2 separate regions of the Homo sapiens genome follow, and region 2 is linked to region 1. A link means that fine-mapping ties the variant in region 1 to the expression of a gene that starts in the linked region. Tissue or cell type: lymphoblastoid cells. Region 1 holds a variant in brackets; the other region holds the start of a gene. All regions are shown on one strand. Distances are between the middles of the regions.

Region 1 (8,102 bases):
CACCCCCAGCTAATTTTGTATTTTTAGTAGGGATGGGTTTTCTCCATGTTGGCCAGGCTGGTCTCAAACTCCCGACCTCAGGTGATATGCCCACCTTGGCCTCCCAAAGTGCTGGGATTACAGGCGTGAGCCACTGTGCCCGGCTGGAGATAGGGTTTTTAACAGAAGTAACCAAGTTAAAATAAGGTCATTAGGATGTATCCTGACCCAATATGACTGGTGTCTTAAAAGAAGGAATAGACACATGCACACAGGGGAACGCCATGTGAACATCAAGGCAGAGATCTTTGCTGGGTACTTTTCATGAATTTGGCTGGGATAACTGGGCTTGCTTGGCTCGCATCCATGTGGTCTCTCATCCACCAGCAGACTAACCTGGGCTTGTTTTCCTAGAGGTTGGGCAGGGTTTTGAGACAGAATAGAATTTTAAAAGGCCTCTTGAGGCTCAGAACTATCACAGTATTGCCGGGTGCAGTGGCTCACGCCTGTAATCCCAGCACATTGGGAGGCCGAGGCAGGCAGATCACTTGAGGCCAGGGGTTCGAGACCAGCCTGGGCAACATGGTGAAACCCTGTCTCTACTAAAAATACAAAAATTAGCTGGGTATGGTAGCACATGCCTGTATTCCCATGAGGCTGAGGCAGGAGAATCGTTTGAACCTGGGAGGCAGAGGCTGCAGTAAACTGAGATTGTGCCACTGCACTCCAGCCTGGGCGACAGAGCAGGACTCCATCTCAAAAAAAAAAACAAAACAAAAAAAAACCGAAAACAAAAAACTGTCACAGTGTCACTTTTGCTGAAGCAAAAGTTGTGGTCTAAAGCAAGTCACAATACTAGCCCAGATTCAGTGGGGTGGAGATGCTGCAGAGTCACATTGTGGGGGGAATAGTGAGCCATTTTTTGCACACAGTCTACCATCGTGGCCTTCCCTGACTATCCTACCTAACACAGCCCTCCCCTCCATCCCAATTACACTGTTTTACCTTTTTTCCTGGCATTTACCATTATCTGAAATTTTATATATTAATAATTTTGTTTCTTTTCAGGATGGCAGTGCCTGGACTCTTGGCCTTCATTGCCATATCCCCAGAACCTAGGCAGTGTCTAGCACTTATTAGGCCCTGAAGGAATTTTTGAAAGAATAAAGAAATCATGTAAAAAGAATATGCATGCTGGGCACAGTGGCTCACACCTGTAATCCCAGCACTTTGGGAGGCCAATGAGGGCAGATCATTTGAGGTCAGGAGTTGGAGACCAACATGCCCAACATAGTGAAACCCGGTCTCTACTAAAAATACAAAAGTTAGCTGTGTGTGGTGGCATGTGCCTGTAATCCCAGCTACTCAGGAGGCTGAGGCAGGAGAATCACTTGAACCTGGGAGACAGAGGTTGCAATGAGCTGAGATTGTGCCACTGCACTCCAACCTGGGTGACAGAGCGAGACTCTATCTCAAAAAAAAAAAAAAGAATATGCATAGAAAATACCAGATGATTAGCTGGGTGTGGTGGTGTGTGCCTGTAGTCCCAGCTACTTGGGAGGCTAAGGTGAAATAATTGCTTGATCTTGGAAGGTTGAGGCTGCAGTAAGCTGTGATCATGCCACTGCACTCCAGCCTGAGTGACAGAGCAAGACCCTGTCTCAAAACAAACAAACAAAAATACCAGAAGAAACATACTCTAAAGTGTTAATAACTTCCTCTGTTGAGATAACCATTTAATTTTCTTTATGTTTTTCTGTTTAAAAAATATAACATTGTATTTTTTAACAGGGGAGATAGAAATATTCTACACATCTTGATTTGGGTAGTGATTACATGGGTATATACAATTCTCAAAACTCTTTGAACTGAGCACTTAAGATCTGCATTCTATTGTATGTTTTTTATTATTATTATTATTATTATTATTATTATTTGAGACAGAGTTTTGCTCTTGTTGCCCAGGCTGGAGTGAAATGGCACCATCTCTGCTCACTGCAACCTCCACCTCCCAGGTTCAAGCAATTCTCCTGCCTCAGCCTCCCAAGTAGCTGGGATTACAGGTGCACACCACCACGCCTAATTTTTTTGTATTTTTAGTAGAGATGGGATTTTGCCATTTTGGCCAGGCTGGTCTTGAACTGTTGACCTCAGGTGATACGCCTGCCTTGGCATCCCAAACTGCTGGGATTACAGGTGTGGGCCACTGCGTGGGGCCTATTGTATGTTAATTATATCTCAATAAAAAATAAACACACAAGCAATATACTTTTGTACTTCCTATTGTCTAATAGCATTTAGAATATATAAGTAGGGGCTGGGTGCGGTGGCTTGTGCCTGTAATCCCAGCACTTTGGGAGGCCGAGGTGGGTGGATCACGAGGTCAGGAGATCGAGACCATCCTGGCTAACACAGTGAAACCCCATGTCTACTAAAAATACAAAAAATTAGCCGGGTGTGGTGGCGGGCGCCTGTAGTCCCAGCCTCTTGGGAGGCTGAGGCAGGAGAATGGTGTGAACCTGGGAGGCAGAGCTTGCAGTTAGCCGAGATCACACCACTGCACTCCAGCCTGGGTGACAGAGTGAGACTCCATCTCAAAAAAAAAAAAAAAATGTATATATATATATATGTAGGATAAGTGGAAGTAGGTGAAAATCTAAGCTCAGTAGCACAAATATAGCTATTAAATCAGATCATAGGCCGGGTGTGGTGGCTCACGCCTGTAATCCCAGATTTTTGGGAGAATGAGGTGGGTGGATCCTTTGAGGTCAGGAGTTCGAGACCAGCCTGGCCAACATGATGAAACCCACCTCTGCTAAAAATACAAAAATTAGGCCGGGCACGGTGGCTCATGCCTGTAATCCCAGCACTTTGGGAGGCCAAGGTGGGTGGATCACCAGGTCAGGAGATCAAGACCAGCCTGGCCAACATGGTGAAGCCCCATCTCTACTAAAAATGCAAAAATTAGCTGGGCATGGTGGCGCATGCCTGTAATCCCAGCTACTTGGGAGGCTGAGGCAGGAGAATCACTTGAACCCGGGAGGCAGAGGTTGCAGTGAGCTGAGATTGCGCTACTGCACTCTAGCCTGGCAACAGAGCGAGATTCCATCTAAAAAAAAAAAAAAAAATTATCCAGGCGTGGTGGCAGGCACCTGTAGTCCCAGCTACTTGGGAGGCTGAGACAGGAGAATCGCTTAAACCCAGGAGGTGGAGGTTGCAGTGAGCCAAGATCACGCCACTGCACTCCAGCCTGGACAACAGAGCAAGACTGTCTCAAAAAAGGAAAAAACAAAACATCAGATCATAAATTGAACTTATAATTTTTTTGCTTTTTTTTAGACGGAGTCTCGCTCTGTCGCCAGGCTGGAGTGCAGTGGCGCAAGCTCCGACTCCCGGGTTCAAGTGATTCTCCTGCCTCAGCCTCCCAAGTAGCTGGGATTACTTGTGCACGCCACCACGCCCAGATAATTTTTGTATTTTTAGTAGAGATGGGTTTTCACCATGTTGGCCAGGATGGTCTCAATCTCCTGACCTTGTGATCTGCCCGCCTTGGCCTCCCAAAGTGCTGGAATTACAGGTGTGAGCCACTGTGCCTGGCTTAAACTTGTTATTACATAATATTTTTTTAAAAGGCCGGGTACAGTGGCTCATGCCTGTAATTGCAGCACTTTGGGAGGCCGAGGCAGGCAGATCACTTGAGGCCAAGAGTTTGAGACCAGCCTGGCCAACATGGTGAAACTCCGTCTCTACTAAAAATACAAAAAATTAGCCGGTGTGGTGCCGCAAGCCTGTAATCGCAGCTACTTGGGAGGCTGAGGCAGGAGAATTGCTTGAACCTGGGAGGCAGACGTGCAGTGAGCCAAGATTGCACCACTGCACTCTAGCCTAGGAGACTCCGTCTCAAAAAAAAAACAAAGAAAAAGCTCTTGGACACATTTGCACATAGACATACACACAGCACCAATTTACATCTGCCAAATTAATACTGCTTTATAATATCCTCTAGTAGTTTGTAAGATTTTTGTTCTAGGCTTTCTCTCTCCCCATGTGTTCTATAATAAATTGAAGCTGCAAATTAAGCCGATCCCTCCAGAATATCCAGTTTCCAGTTAGCCTGTTTATGCCCTTTTGACTGTGCCTCTGGGGGCACTAGCAGAGTCTGCACTCTTACAGAGAGAACACCTTAGAGCCTGGATAGCCTTGTTCCAGAAGCGACTTTTCCAATGGAGCAAATGTCCATGAGGCTCTGGATAAAGGAACTGAGATGTCAGTGTAAATGGCTGCTGTGGGCTGGGCCCCAAGCTCCCCAGGGTGAAGGGGCCAGCACAGTCCATTGAAATGAATTCCCAAGGCCAGCCCTTGGGTATAGTGGGGGGAAACCCTGTGGCTTTCCTCTTCCTTTCTCTTTATCAGCTCAGGCGCCCCATTGAAGTGGGAAAGGAGAGAGGGAGAAGTTAGAAAACTCCATGAGAAGAGGCTAGGGTTGGTGGCTCACGCCTGTAATCCCAGCACTTTGGGAGGCCGAGGTGGGCAGATCACCTGAGGTCAGGAGGTCCAGACCAGCCTGGCCAAGATAGTGAAACCCCATCTCTACTAAAAATACAAAAACTAGCTGGGCGTGGTGGCGGGTGCCTGTTAATCCCAGCTTCTCAGGAGACTGAGGCATGAGAATTGCTTGAACCCTGGAGGTGGAGGTTGCAGTTAGCCAAGATCGTGCCACTGTGCTCCAGTCTGGACAATAGAGCTAGAGACCCCTTCTCAAAAAAAAAAAAAAAAAAAAGGGAAGGCTGGCAGAGGGTG[G/T]ATGTTCAGGACCCTGGACTCACACAAAAGTGGCCTCAACTCAGTACTCTCCTTTCCCAAAACAACAAAATCGAACTAGGAGCTGTGTCTTTTACATTCCCAAGTCCCAAAGTTAGGGGAGATAGTAGAGCAGAGTGGTGATAAGCCCAGGTTTTGGGGTTAGATGATGTCAAGATTGAGAATTGACTGAGTGTGGTGGACTGCAACTGTCATCCCAGTGCTTTGGGAGGCGGAGGTGGGAGGATCACTTGGAATTCAAGGTCAGCCTGGGCAACATAGCAAGATCCCATGTCTACAAGAACAAACAAATTAGCTGGGCATGGTGGTGTACCTGTAGTCCCAGCTACTCAGGAGGCTGAGGCAGGAGGATCACTTGAGCCCAGGAGTTTGAGACTGCAGTGAGCTATGATCGCGTCACTGCACTCCAGCCTGGGCGACAGAGACCTTGTTTATTAAAAAAAAAAAAAAGAAAAGAAAAGAAAAAGGGCCGGGCACAGTGGCTTATGTGTATAATCTCAGCATTTTGGGAGGCTGAGGTGGGAGGACCACTTGAGCCCAGGAGTTCCAGATCAGCCTGGGCAACATAGGAGACCCCCAAAATAAGAAAAAGTTAGCTGGGCATAGTGGCACGCTCCTGTGGTCCCAGCTACTCAGGAGGCTGAGGTGGGAGGATCGTTTAAGTCCAGGGAGGTTGAGGCTGCCATGAGCCATGATCACACCACTGCACTCTAGCCTGGGCAAGAGTGAGACCCTGTCTCTAAAAAAAAAAAAAAAAAGAAGAGAGTGAGAGGGCTGGGCACAGTGGCTCACGCCTGTAATCCCAGCACTTTGGGAGGCAAAGACAGGTGGATCACCTGAGGTCAGGAGTTTGAGACCAGCCTGACCAACATGGATGGAGAAACCCTGCCTCTATGAAAAATAAAATAAAATAATTAGCTGGGCCTGGTGGCAGGTGCCTGTAATTCCAGCTACTCAGGAGGCTGAGGCAGGAGAACTGCGTGAACCCAGGAGGCAGAGGTTGCAGTGAGCTGAGATCCCGCCATAGCACTCCAGCCTGAGTGACAAGAGCAAAACTCTGTTGCAAAAAAAGAAAAAGAGAGAGAGAATGGCCTTTATCACTTACCAGCTATGTGACCTCAGTCAGTGCTGGTCGAGTCCCATCCTGTTTCCACTGCGCCCTAGTTTCTTGCTGTGTAAAATGGGTTCACCGTAGGACCTGACAGGATTGTTGTGAGGACTGGATGAAACATACAAGGCAAGTGCTCAGCACAATGACTGGGCGGTAGGTTGTGTGAGCTAGCAGTGTAATCAAACACATCAAAACCGCAGGACAGGGCTTACTTCCATTTTTCATTCTCAGCAAGTGCAAAGGGGCTATCTCGGCTCTACGTCCTACTAAAATCCAACACAGGTTTGGGGTCTCTAGATTACCGCTCTGGCTTGCCTGATTAGGACAACCAGTGCTGGAAAAGAGGCCCCTCATAGGGATGTCCTGCTGGGATTTTCCTAGTCCACTTGGGTTCACACACGCTAACGGTAATCCAGTGAGGCTCATTAGCATCCCTTACCTCCCTTCCCACGAGAATGTTATGTCAGAAGGTGAAAAGGAAACTTTTTAAAGAGTTAACCAAAAAGGCAGCCCTCTCCTGTGGGCCATAACGGAGCTAACCGAGAAGGAGGAAGGGATGGTGTGGATGATTTCTTGGGGGGACTGTTCTGTTTTTGAAAGCGGTGGAGCATTCTGATTGACAATGGTGAGGGGCAGAGGGGCCGCAGTGAGAAGAAAAGGACAGGAGTGAGCCGTAGCATTACTCTAGCCAAACAGAGCCAGGAATCTCGCCAACGAGAAAGTGCAGGATTGGCAGCAACCGAGAGATCCCGCATGGACTTTTAGGAAAGATTCTAGGCCACAGCACGGGGCCTCCTCCGTCTCAGCCAGGATAATTCTGGCATCAGCCCCCGGCCCAGGCGTGTTCCCACATAATTGAAGTCGAATGTGCTGGGGGAGAGGCCTCCGCATTCCTCCTGGCTGTGGAATCCTCAGTGCCCTGCAGTTGGCCCTGTTTGGGATCAAAGCCAGTTCGTGTTGATTTTCCGCAGCATGGAAACAAATGCGACGAAGCTGTTTTCCTGAGGCAGGCATTTTGAAAAGAGGATCTTAATTTTTTTCCCCAAGGACAGGTGGGGTGGGGAGGTGGGGGAGTGCCACGTGGCTCCTCTCTTGCTGTCCCTTTTGCAAACAGTTGGGCTCATAGTGTCTGCATGAGCAGAAACTGATCAGTTAGAATATGAGTGAATACAGCTACAGCTAAGGTTGCTTCTATCACAAAAGATAATTCCTAAAAAATGCTGCCGGAAGACCCTCTGGCTGCGTGTGATAAGTCACAATTTGGTTGCTCTCTGTTGGAGTGTTTCCAAGATAGCAACTCTCCTTTTTCCTCCTAAAATTTTCTGCTTACATGTCTTAACTTCTAGGTCTTTCTCTGTAATCTGTTGTGCCTGTAAAATTAATTCCTGTCCCTTCTTTTTAGTTAGCACTGAAGCCTTTTAGTGCTAAGCATTATGCTAATGATGTAAACTGATACAGGCGAGTTTCTTAAGTTGTGGAAACATCTTTATTTATTTATTTTTTTTAGACAGAGTCTCGCTCAGCCGCCCAGGCTGGAGTGCAGTGGCGTGATCTCGGCTCACTGCAACCACCGTCTCTCTGGTTCAAGTGATTTTCCCGTCTCAGCCTCCTGAGTAGCTGGGATTACAGGCACCTGACATCATGCCCGGCTAATTTTTTGTATTTTAGTAGAGACAGGGTTTTGCCATGTTGGCCAGGCTGGTCTCAAACTCCTGACCTCAGGTGATCCGCCCGCCTCAGCCTCACAAAGTGCTGGGATTACAGGCATGAGCCACCGCACCCGGCCGGAAACATCTCATTCTTTTACAGGGGACTTGAGTTCTCCCAGTTCTCTAGGGAAAACCTGAACTTTTGCCTATTGGGCCATAATCAAGGGATTGAGAATTAGAACCAGGAGTTGATATAGCTGGGAGAGCAGTGGTGCGATCATAGCTCACTGCAAGCTCGAACTCCTGGGCTCCAGAGATCCTCCTGCCTTAGCCTCCTGAGTAGCTGGGACTACAGGCATGCGCCACCCCTGGCTAATTGTTTTTAATTTTTAGTAGAGACAAGGTCTATGTTGCCCAGGCTGGTCTTGAACTCCCAGCCTCAAGCGATCCTCTTATCTCGGCCTCCCAGAGTGTTGGGATGACAGGTGTGAGCCACAGCACCTAGCCTGGGCTCTTCCTTTTTAAATTAGGAAACACATGTACCA
Region 2 (8,102 bases), 230 kb before region 1:
TAGATTATAATCACATTCTTTTTTTTTTTGAGACGAAGTCTCACTCTTGTCACCAGGCTGGAGTGCAATGGTGCAATCTCGGCTCACTGCAACCTCCGCCTCCCAGGTTCAAGCAATTATCCCTGCGTCAGCCTCCCAAGTAGCTGGGATTACAGGCACCCACCAGCACGCCCAGTTAATTTTTGTATTTTTAGTAGAGACAGGGTTTCACCATGTTGACAAGGCTGGTCTCAAACTCCCGACCTCAGGTGATCCATCTGCTGCAGCCTCCCAAAGTGCTGGGATTACCGGCATGAGCCACCGAGCCTGCACTATATTCAACATTCTTTATCAGTCGTTGCTATGTGGAGGTACCTCCCCCACTCCTAAGCCCTCAATGTGAGTTTTCTCATCAAATTCCCCCTCAACCCAATGGGGTCAGTCCTGTCACTGTCCCCATTTTCCAGATGAGGAAACTGAGGCCCAGAGAATCTATGTGACTGCACAGCTAGGAGATACAGAACAGAGAACTCTTTTTTTTTTTTTTGGAGACGGAGTCTCGCTCTGTTGTTGCCAGGCTGGAGCACAGTCGCGTGATCTCAGCTCACTGCAACCTCCCCTTCCTGGGTTTAAGCGATTCTCCTGCCTCAGCCTCCCGAGTAGCTGGGACTACTGGCACCCGCCACCACACCCGGCTAATTTTTGTATTTTTAGTAGAGATGGGGTTTCACCATATTGGCCTGGCTGGTCTTGAACTCCTGACTTTGTGATCCACCGCCTCAGTCTCCCAAAGTGCTGGGATTACAGGCCTAAGCCACCGCGCCTGGCCCACTTTTTGAATTTTTATGAGTATATAGTAGGTGTATATATTTATGGAGTATGTGAGGTATTTTGATACAGGCATGCAATGTGTAATTATCACATCAGGGTAAATGAGGTATCCATCACCTCAAGCACTTATCATGTATTTGTGTTTGTACTAGTTAACTTTTGTTGTTATTTAAATTATTATTAATACGAATTGCTAATATGAATATTAATAGCATTGATCATTGTTAATTTATTGCTGTTGACTCGTGTTGTAATCGTTATCTTTTTAATTTTTTTTTTTTTTTTTTGAGACGGATTTTCACTCTTGTTGCCCAGGCTGGAGTGCAATGGTACGATCTCGGCTCACCGCAACCTCCACCTCCCGGGTTCAAACAATTCTCCTGCCTCAGCCTCCTGAGTAGCTGGGATTACAGGCATGCGGCACCACACCTGGCTAATTTTGTATTTTTAGTAGAGACGGGGTTTCTCCATGTTGGTCAGGCTGGTCTCGAACTCCCGACCTTGGGTGATCCGCCTGCCTCGGCCTCCCAAAGTGCTGGGATTACAGGCATGAGCCACCGCGCGTGGCCTGTAATTGTTATTAATCCTGTGAGTCTCCGGCTTTCTGGAACTTGGCCAGCAGGAGGTGTTGGTGTTTTTCACAGCAAGAAGGAAGGGCGGTTGGACCTGCTCCCCTAAGACGGCCTGGCTTGTTTCCGGGAGCTACGGATCAGTCATGGGAATTTGAATAACCCTTTCTCTCCTTAGGTCCCAGTGACCTGCCGAGTGGGAAGAGCCGTGGCTGGCCGGCCTCCCAGTGGCGACGACGACCTCGCTGTGTTCGTGGCAGCGGCACTCTCAAATCTGGGCACGGTGATGGGAAGGTTATTTGTTGGAATCCCTTTGCCTTTCCAAGGGAAAATAAACACAAAAAGTGAGAAGTCTTGGGGTCTCAGCGAGCGCCAAAACAAAAAACTGGACTCTGGCGGGGATGTGGGCAAGAAGCGACTAAGCGAGGAAGGAAACCAGTTTGGGCCTCCGAGAAATCTGGCAGGCGAGAAGGTTTGAACCGTGATTAAAAAGGGGAAGAACCACAAGTCCCAATTTAAGTCAGCAGAGCTGCTGTCTGGGCAGTGAGAGGGAAAGTGCTTGTGGCTGGCAGATTTCAGCAGCCATTTGGCATTGGCTGGGTACCGGGCTGCTCTGTGGGTGCTGCCTGGCAGCTGCATGGCTACAGACAAGTAACTGTTCTCTCTTGGCCGCAGTGTCCCCAGGTATAAGAAAGTGATCAAATAATATGGGATGATCCATTCAGACTTTTTTTTTTTTTTTTTTTAGAGACAGAGCCTACCTCTGTCTCCCAGGCTCGAGTGCAGTGATGCAATCTTGGCTCACTGCAGTGTCCACCTCCCAGGTTCAAGCGATTCTTCTGCCTCTGCCTCCCCAGTAGCTGGGACTACAGGTGCGTGCAACCATGCCTGGCTAATTTTTGTATTTTTAGTAGAGACAGGGTTTCACCCTGTTGACCAGGCTGGTCTCAAACTCCTGACCTCAGGTGATCCGCTGGCCTCAGCCTCCCAAAGTGCTGAGATTGCAGGTGTGAGCCACTACACCCGGCCTCGTTTAGACTTCATTGACATTCCCCCACCCCACCCCTCTTCCCACATCCTCAGATGCCGTGTGAACAGCTTGAATCCCACACTCCACAGGTCCTTCTCCTCACAACCCTCCATGGCACCCTACTGCCTTCAAAATAATTCCCAAAGTCCCCACCAAGACCTTCAAGACACCATGTGATGGGCCCACCTTTGAAACATCATCTCTTACCAGTATAGGTGTCACCACTGCCTTTATGACTTTATTCCAAAGCACCACATGTATTCCCACCTCAGCACCTTTGCACATGCTGTTCCTTTGGCCTGGAATGCTCTTCCCTCAGACGTTATAGCACCTGGATCCTTCTTGTCATGGAGGGTTCTAAGCTCACATGTTAGTTCCGCAGAGGTGTCCTTCCTGAGCCCTGGATCTAAGACATCCCCTTCCAGCTCTCCATCCCGTAACTGTTTTGTCATTGTCATAGCTGATCCCACTTGCTTATTCGTGCCTTATGTCCCCCCACTAGAATATCAGCTCCACGCAGGCAGGGATATCTGTGTTGTTCACTGCTGTGTTCCCAGCGCCTAGAACAGTGCCTGGAAATGTGCGGAAAGCAGATTTTTGTGGCCTTTTTCTTCAAGGTCATTGGACACCAGGAATCCTGTAGCAGACCGCTCCCTTCCCCCATCTACTCGGAGTCTGGAAATCCCCACCTTCTGGGGAACCCCTTCCTGTAGTTCTAAGGTCAGGACTGGGGCCGATTTGTTTAACACAGAGAGCTTCCTGGAGCCAAGCCTCGAGCTAACTGCTTTAATGCATTAACTCACTTAATTCTCACTGCCAGGAGAGTGGGTACACATTATTTCCATTTCATAGGCAAGGAAGTGGAGAGGTACGGAGAAGTCAAGTCATTTGCCCGGGTAGGAAGAGGGGGAGGCAGTGGAATGGAGACACTTGCTGCCTGGGAAGACTCGAGGTGGCCCCTCCAAGCTGGGGGCGTGGGCGACTTGTTTCCTGTTGGGGGAGGGGGAGAAGAGTACATTCCTCCCTCCCCGCCCTCCCACATGTTGGGGGAGAGGCTGGCTGAGAGCATGTCCCACTCCGGACTAGGGGGAACCCCACTGTCCGTCTCAGCTCCCCATGAGGCCGTGGAGAAAATGTAAGTAGCCCGGGGGCGGGCAGGGGGGTGGGCGCAGAGGCCACGGAAGCCAGCGGTCGGAGAGGGCTTCCTGGAGAAAGATGCACCCCTCCTAGAATTGGGGGACAGGACGGGCGGCCGGAGCGAGGCTGGGCTATACGGGCACCGGCTGTAGCAAAGGCAAAGCTGAGGGCTGGGGCCAGAACCCAAATCGGGGGCCTGGGGCCGTGGCGGGTCGGGTCAGCATGATCGCAGATAGTCAGGGTCGGGCAGGGCTGGGCTCCCTCCCTGGGGCGATGATGAAAGCCGTGGTCGCTATTGCACCGCCCAGCCCTGCGGGCACTGATAAGGCCCTGCAGGAGGGAGTCAGCAAGGGCGCGCCCCCTGGAGGCCAGGCCCCTCGACCCTGCCCGCCCTAGGCCCCGCCCCTTCATCTGGCCCCGCCTCCAGGCGCTGAGGCACCTGGTGACCTGCCGGCGTTGAGTGGGTGGGGCTAAAGTCGCCCCGCCCCTCCGATCCTCACTTCTATCTTCAGACTGTGGGACGCGAAATCGGGTGGGCACGTGGTGGGCGTGGCTTCGCAAGGCCTCGCCTTTTTCCGGACCCGCGCCAGGAGAGCCCTCCGACCCTGGCAGCCGCGGACTAGCGGGATTGGTAGGCGGGGCCAGTCCGGGCTCCGCCCTCATGGCCCGCCCCTCCAGCCGAATCTCCGACTCGCGCGCGGCCTGAGGCGTGGCTCCTGGTGGCCCCGCCCCTGCCCCGCCCCTGTCGCGGCCGGCCTCCCCCGCCGGGCTCCGCTCGCACGGCCGGTTCCTCTTTACATAACGGCGCGGGGCGGCATGGGCCCGGGCCACCGCCTCCGCCCGGCTGCCCGCCCGGACTGTCGCGGCCCGCGGTGGCGACGGCGGCCGCTGCAAAGTTTCCCCGGCGGCGGCGGCCCGGGGGCGCATCCTCCCGCAACTGTCAAGCGCTGGCGGCGGAAATGATGAGGCGCTGGCCATTTTCCGAGCCCGGGTTTCCTGCCTGAGCCCCGCTCGAGCGAGCCGCGAGCGAGGAGCCGGCGGGCGGGAGAGGACGCGCCCAGGGCGGGGGCCCGCCCGCCCCCTCGGGATTTCGAGGGCCCGGGGGCGCGCGACGCCATGGGCCGGCCGGGCCCAGAGCTCCTGTCTCTCAGGTGAGCCCGCGTTTGCCCGCGCTCCCCTCCTCCGGGGCCGGGAGGGCTTTTGTGGGGAAAGAGGAGGCCCCGTGTCCAGTTCTGCCCGGGCTCTGCGCGTCACCCCCAGCCCAAAATACTGCCCTGCAGCCAACTCGGATGGAGGCGTTCCGGGGTGACGGCTCCCAGCGCCTACGACCCCCCACTCAGCCACTACCCCCACCCACACACGTGTTAGGGAGAGCGTTGGGGTAACTGAGGCCGTGGGATGGGGGAGAGGGCATCGCTGACGCCCCCAGCCCACCCTACGGTAGCCTCGCCGGTTGGGGGCGGCCCTCCCCTCAACTTGTGCCTGGGGAGGAGCGGTCAGGGGTCACCCATTGCTACCCTGAAAGTGAAAGTAGTCAAACTGAGGCTGTGAGCACAGATGAGCCCTTGGGTGTGGGGGCAGCGGGGGAGGATGCGCCGGCCCCTCCCCACTCCCCATTCCGGGCCATGTGGCTAAGAGGGTAGCGCCCTGATTCAGGAAGCCCCTCTCCCCAGTTCCTGCACTGCCGAGGTCGACCGGGCCAGGCCCCCGCATGCTGCTGAATTGGGCGGTTCACCAGGGCTAGGCGTCCCAGAGACAGGTTTCTGGTATTGATCCTCTCACACCTCTTGCCTGGGGTTCCCTGGGAATCCCCCGACCAAAAAACGTCTGGAGTGGGTGTTGGTCTTCTAGATCCGCACGGTAGGGATGGTATTTCAGAGGTCTCTGATGCCTGGTGCAGAAATCCCCTTCCCTCCCTTCCCTCCCTCCGGCCAGGGGAGCTTTGTTTTGAGGGAGGGGGACTGCATTTGAGGAACTGGAGAGGAGGGTCTGCCTGCCTGTCCCGCTTCTTTTTTTCTTTAGTTTCCTCATTCTCCTGTTTCTCTTCCCCATTCCCAGCCACAATGATGTAGGTGAGGAGGTCACTGCCTGCAGCTGGGGGCCTCCAGGGAGGGGCACGGCCAGGCTGGGCTGAGTGGGAGGAAGTGAAATCTGGTGGGGGGTTCAGAGCAGAGGCCCCGGCAAGGCAATGTCGGCAAGGCCAGCTTTGGTGGCAGGAGGGACCGAGATCTGACCCGCAGCCCCTCGCCGGGGAGATGACAGTTCCCTAACACCGGCTAGCAGCCAGGCCTCAGGGCCCCTGCCAGGGCAGTGGGCCTGTGGGTCTCCAGGGATGCAGGCGCAGGTTGTGTCTGGGTTTCCCATCACTGACCTGGCTGCCTGAGTGGAAACAGCTCTGGAGGCTCCTCGGGACCTGCCCTCGTGGAGGGAGAGCCGTCAGAGGCCACCTGGGCAGGCTGGGCTCGGAGGATGAGAGCCAGGGCCTACTGGGGGAAGTTGGAAGGGTTTTTAGTGCACTTTTCCTGAGCCTTTTCCCACTACCCCCTCTGGGAGGGAAAATCCTTCTGAGCCAAAGGGTGAGCATTCCTAGAACTTTTGTGAGTCCCTGTGGGCCACAGAGCGGCCAGCTGGGAAGGGGCTGGCTCAGAGCATCAGCAGCTGGGGGCTCAGGGTCTGCAGGGGCTCAGCAGGAAGTGGAGGAGGATAGTGAGGAGGGTCCTGGAGACTGTGCTTTGCTACTCCTATTGCCTTCGTTCAGCTGAAGGCGTGGGCAAGTGACTCTGCCCTCAGTTTCCCTCTGTGTAAAATGGGGGAGTAACAGGTTTGCAGTGGAGATTTAATGAGCCAGTGTGTAATGAGCACCTGCTGCCTGGCAAAGAGAGGTTCAGTTGCAGGTGGTGGTGGTGGTAGTGGTGATTTTATCATTGCCTTCATTAGTGTTACTGTTATTGGCTATGAGGTGTTCCTTCAGTAGTCTCCCTTGAGCATCTCTTGCATACATAGCACTGGAATTTCCTGGGTCTTTGGGAGCAGAATTTTGAAGATCTGGGCACTTCCTTAGCTATAAGGCCTTGCTTAACTGCCCCACCTCAGTTTCCTCATCTGTGAAATGGGTGTGCTAATAGTACCTACTTCCTAGAGTCATGGGAACCATGAATGAGTGAATTCACAGTGTCCAGAGTGGCTTGGTCAGGAGGAAGAGAAGAAGTAGCCTTGGGGCCGGAATGATCTTTTTTGTTGTGGGTGTTAGCTCTGCTGGCTTTCTTTCCTCATCCCCCCACCCCCACCCCCATGCCTCTCAAACCTGGGCCTGATCCTCCTTCTCCGATAAATAGAACTTTTGAGTACAAATCAGATCCCACAGGACTGCTGGGCCCTTGGATTTCTGGCTCCCGCTGTGCCACCCCCAGACATTCTCCATATCCCAGGTGGAGCAGAGCTGGAGGCACTTGGAGGGACCTCCTCGCTGCCAGTCTCAGTGCCACCTGTCTGTGGTGAGGGGAGACCGGGTGCCCTCCCCAGCCAAGGTGGGGAGGGTCAGTGAAGGGGGTCTCAGGGACATAGTAGGGAGCTGTCCCACAGTCTGGGCCAATACAGCTCCTTTTGCTGGAAACACCTTTGGGACCCAGTTTACATGACCCCACACCCTTCTGAGGGCTGGTGTTCATGAGGGTCTCCCATTGCTGGGGATCCTTGGGTTGATCACTTAAGCTCTCTGAGGCAATTGAGACAACATCTGTGAAAGGCTTTAACAGCTGTGCACTTGCTGTGACATGGCACATAAGGCACTGAGCGCTGAGCCTGGCACTCAATTAACAATAGTAGATATTATTGCTATTAATAAAACAAGAGGCTTTTCCTGCTAAATTCCCACTTCTCCCTGGTAGCAGTATGGACTTTGGGGCCAAATCTGGGCTCTGCCAGCTTCCAGGTGTGAGGTCCTAGGCAGGTTACCTGGCTTCTCTGATCTGGACCTCGCCTGCCCGATGGAAGCCAAGAGTTCCAGCCTCCCCAGGGTTGGGTGTGTGAAGTACAGTGTCAGGACTGGAACTGTGTTGGCTGTACTTGCTCTGGCTGTGTGATCTTGGGCTGGTCCCTTAGCCTCTCTGAGCCACAGGTCTTTTTGTCTATGAAATAGGGGGGTTGCCAACTCCCTGTTAGGGTGGTTTTGAGAAAAGGAGGCATGCACAGTGCCCGGCATGCAATTGGCACTCAATAAGTGCAAGCCATTGCTGTTCATGCCCAATAGGGGCTGGCACTTAATTGCCAGGTTTCCTGGGAAAACGGTCCCCAAGGGCCCGCGGGCGTTCAGCATCTTTGACGAGGCAGGGCAGGAAGCCGCTGCCGTCTGGCAGACCGGAGACGCCTGCCTCGGCGAGTCCAGAGGTGCAGTGCTAGCTGCTCATTCCCTGCAAGGCCCCATTCCTCACTACCCACCCTTCCCAAGGAAACTGAGGCGGGCAGGCTGCCCAGGGGAAGTGACTCAGCCGGGGTCACTTGCTGAGTCAGGCCTTATTGGACCCAGGAGTCCTGCACCCCACCTCCCCAGCTTCCCG

The links. PIP is the estimated chance that this variant, and not a neighbour inherited with it, causes the effect.
Region 2: SH2B3 starts here. The variant in region 1 is fine-mapped to the expression of SH2B3 in lymphoblastoid cells (GTEx, PIP above 0.99).

What each region holds. Positions count from the first base shown.
Region 1 is chr12:111,629,660-111,637,761 of GRCh38, forward strand. No RefSeq gene overlaps it. Among named protein-coding and RNA genes, the nearest start is that of ATXN2-AS, 34 kb to the left of the region's middle. RefSeq lists an enhancer at 5,760-6,363. The variant G/T (reference allele first, on the strand shown) is at 4,780.
Region 2 is chr12:111,401,581-111,409,682 of GRCh38, forward strand. SH2B3 (SH2B adaptor protein 3) reads left to right here and starts at 4,343. Exons shown (of 8, transcript NM_005475.3): 1 at 4,343-4,697. It overlaps LINC02356 (long intergenic non-protein coding RNA 2356), which reads left to right. Exons shown (of 4, transcript NR_187522.1): 4 at 1,558-1,730. RefSeq lists an enhancer at 1,550-1,799 and silencers at 3,822-3,981, 4,102-4,681.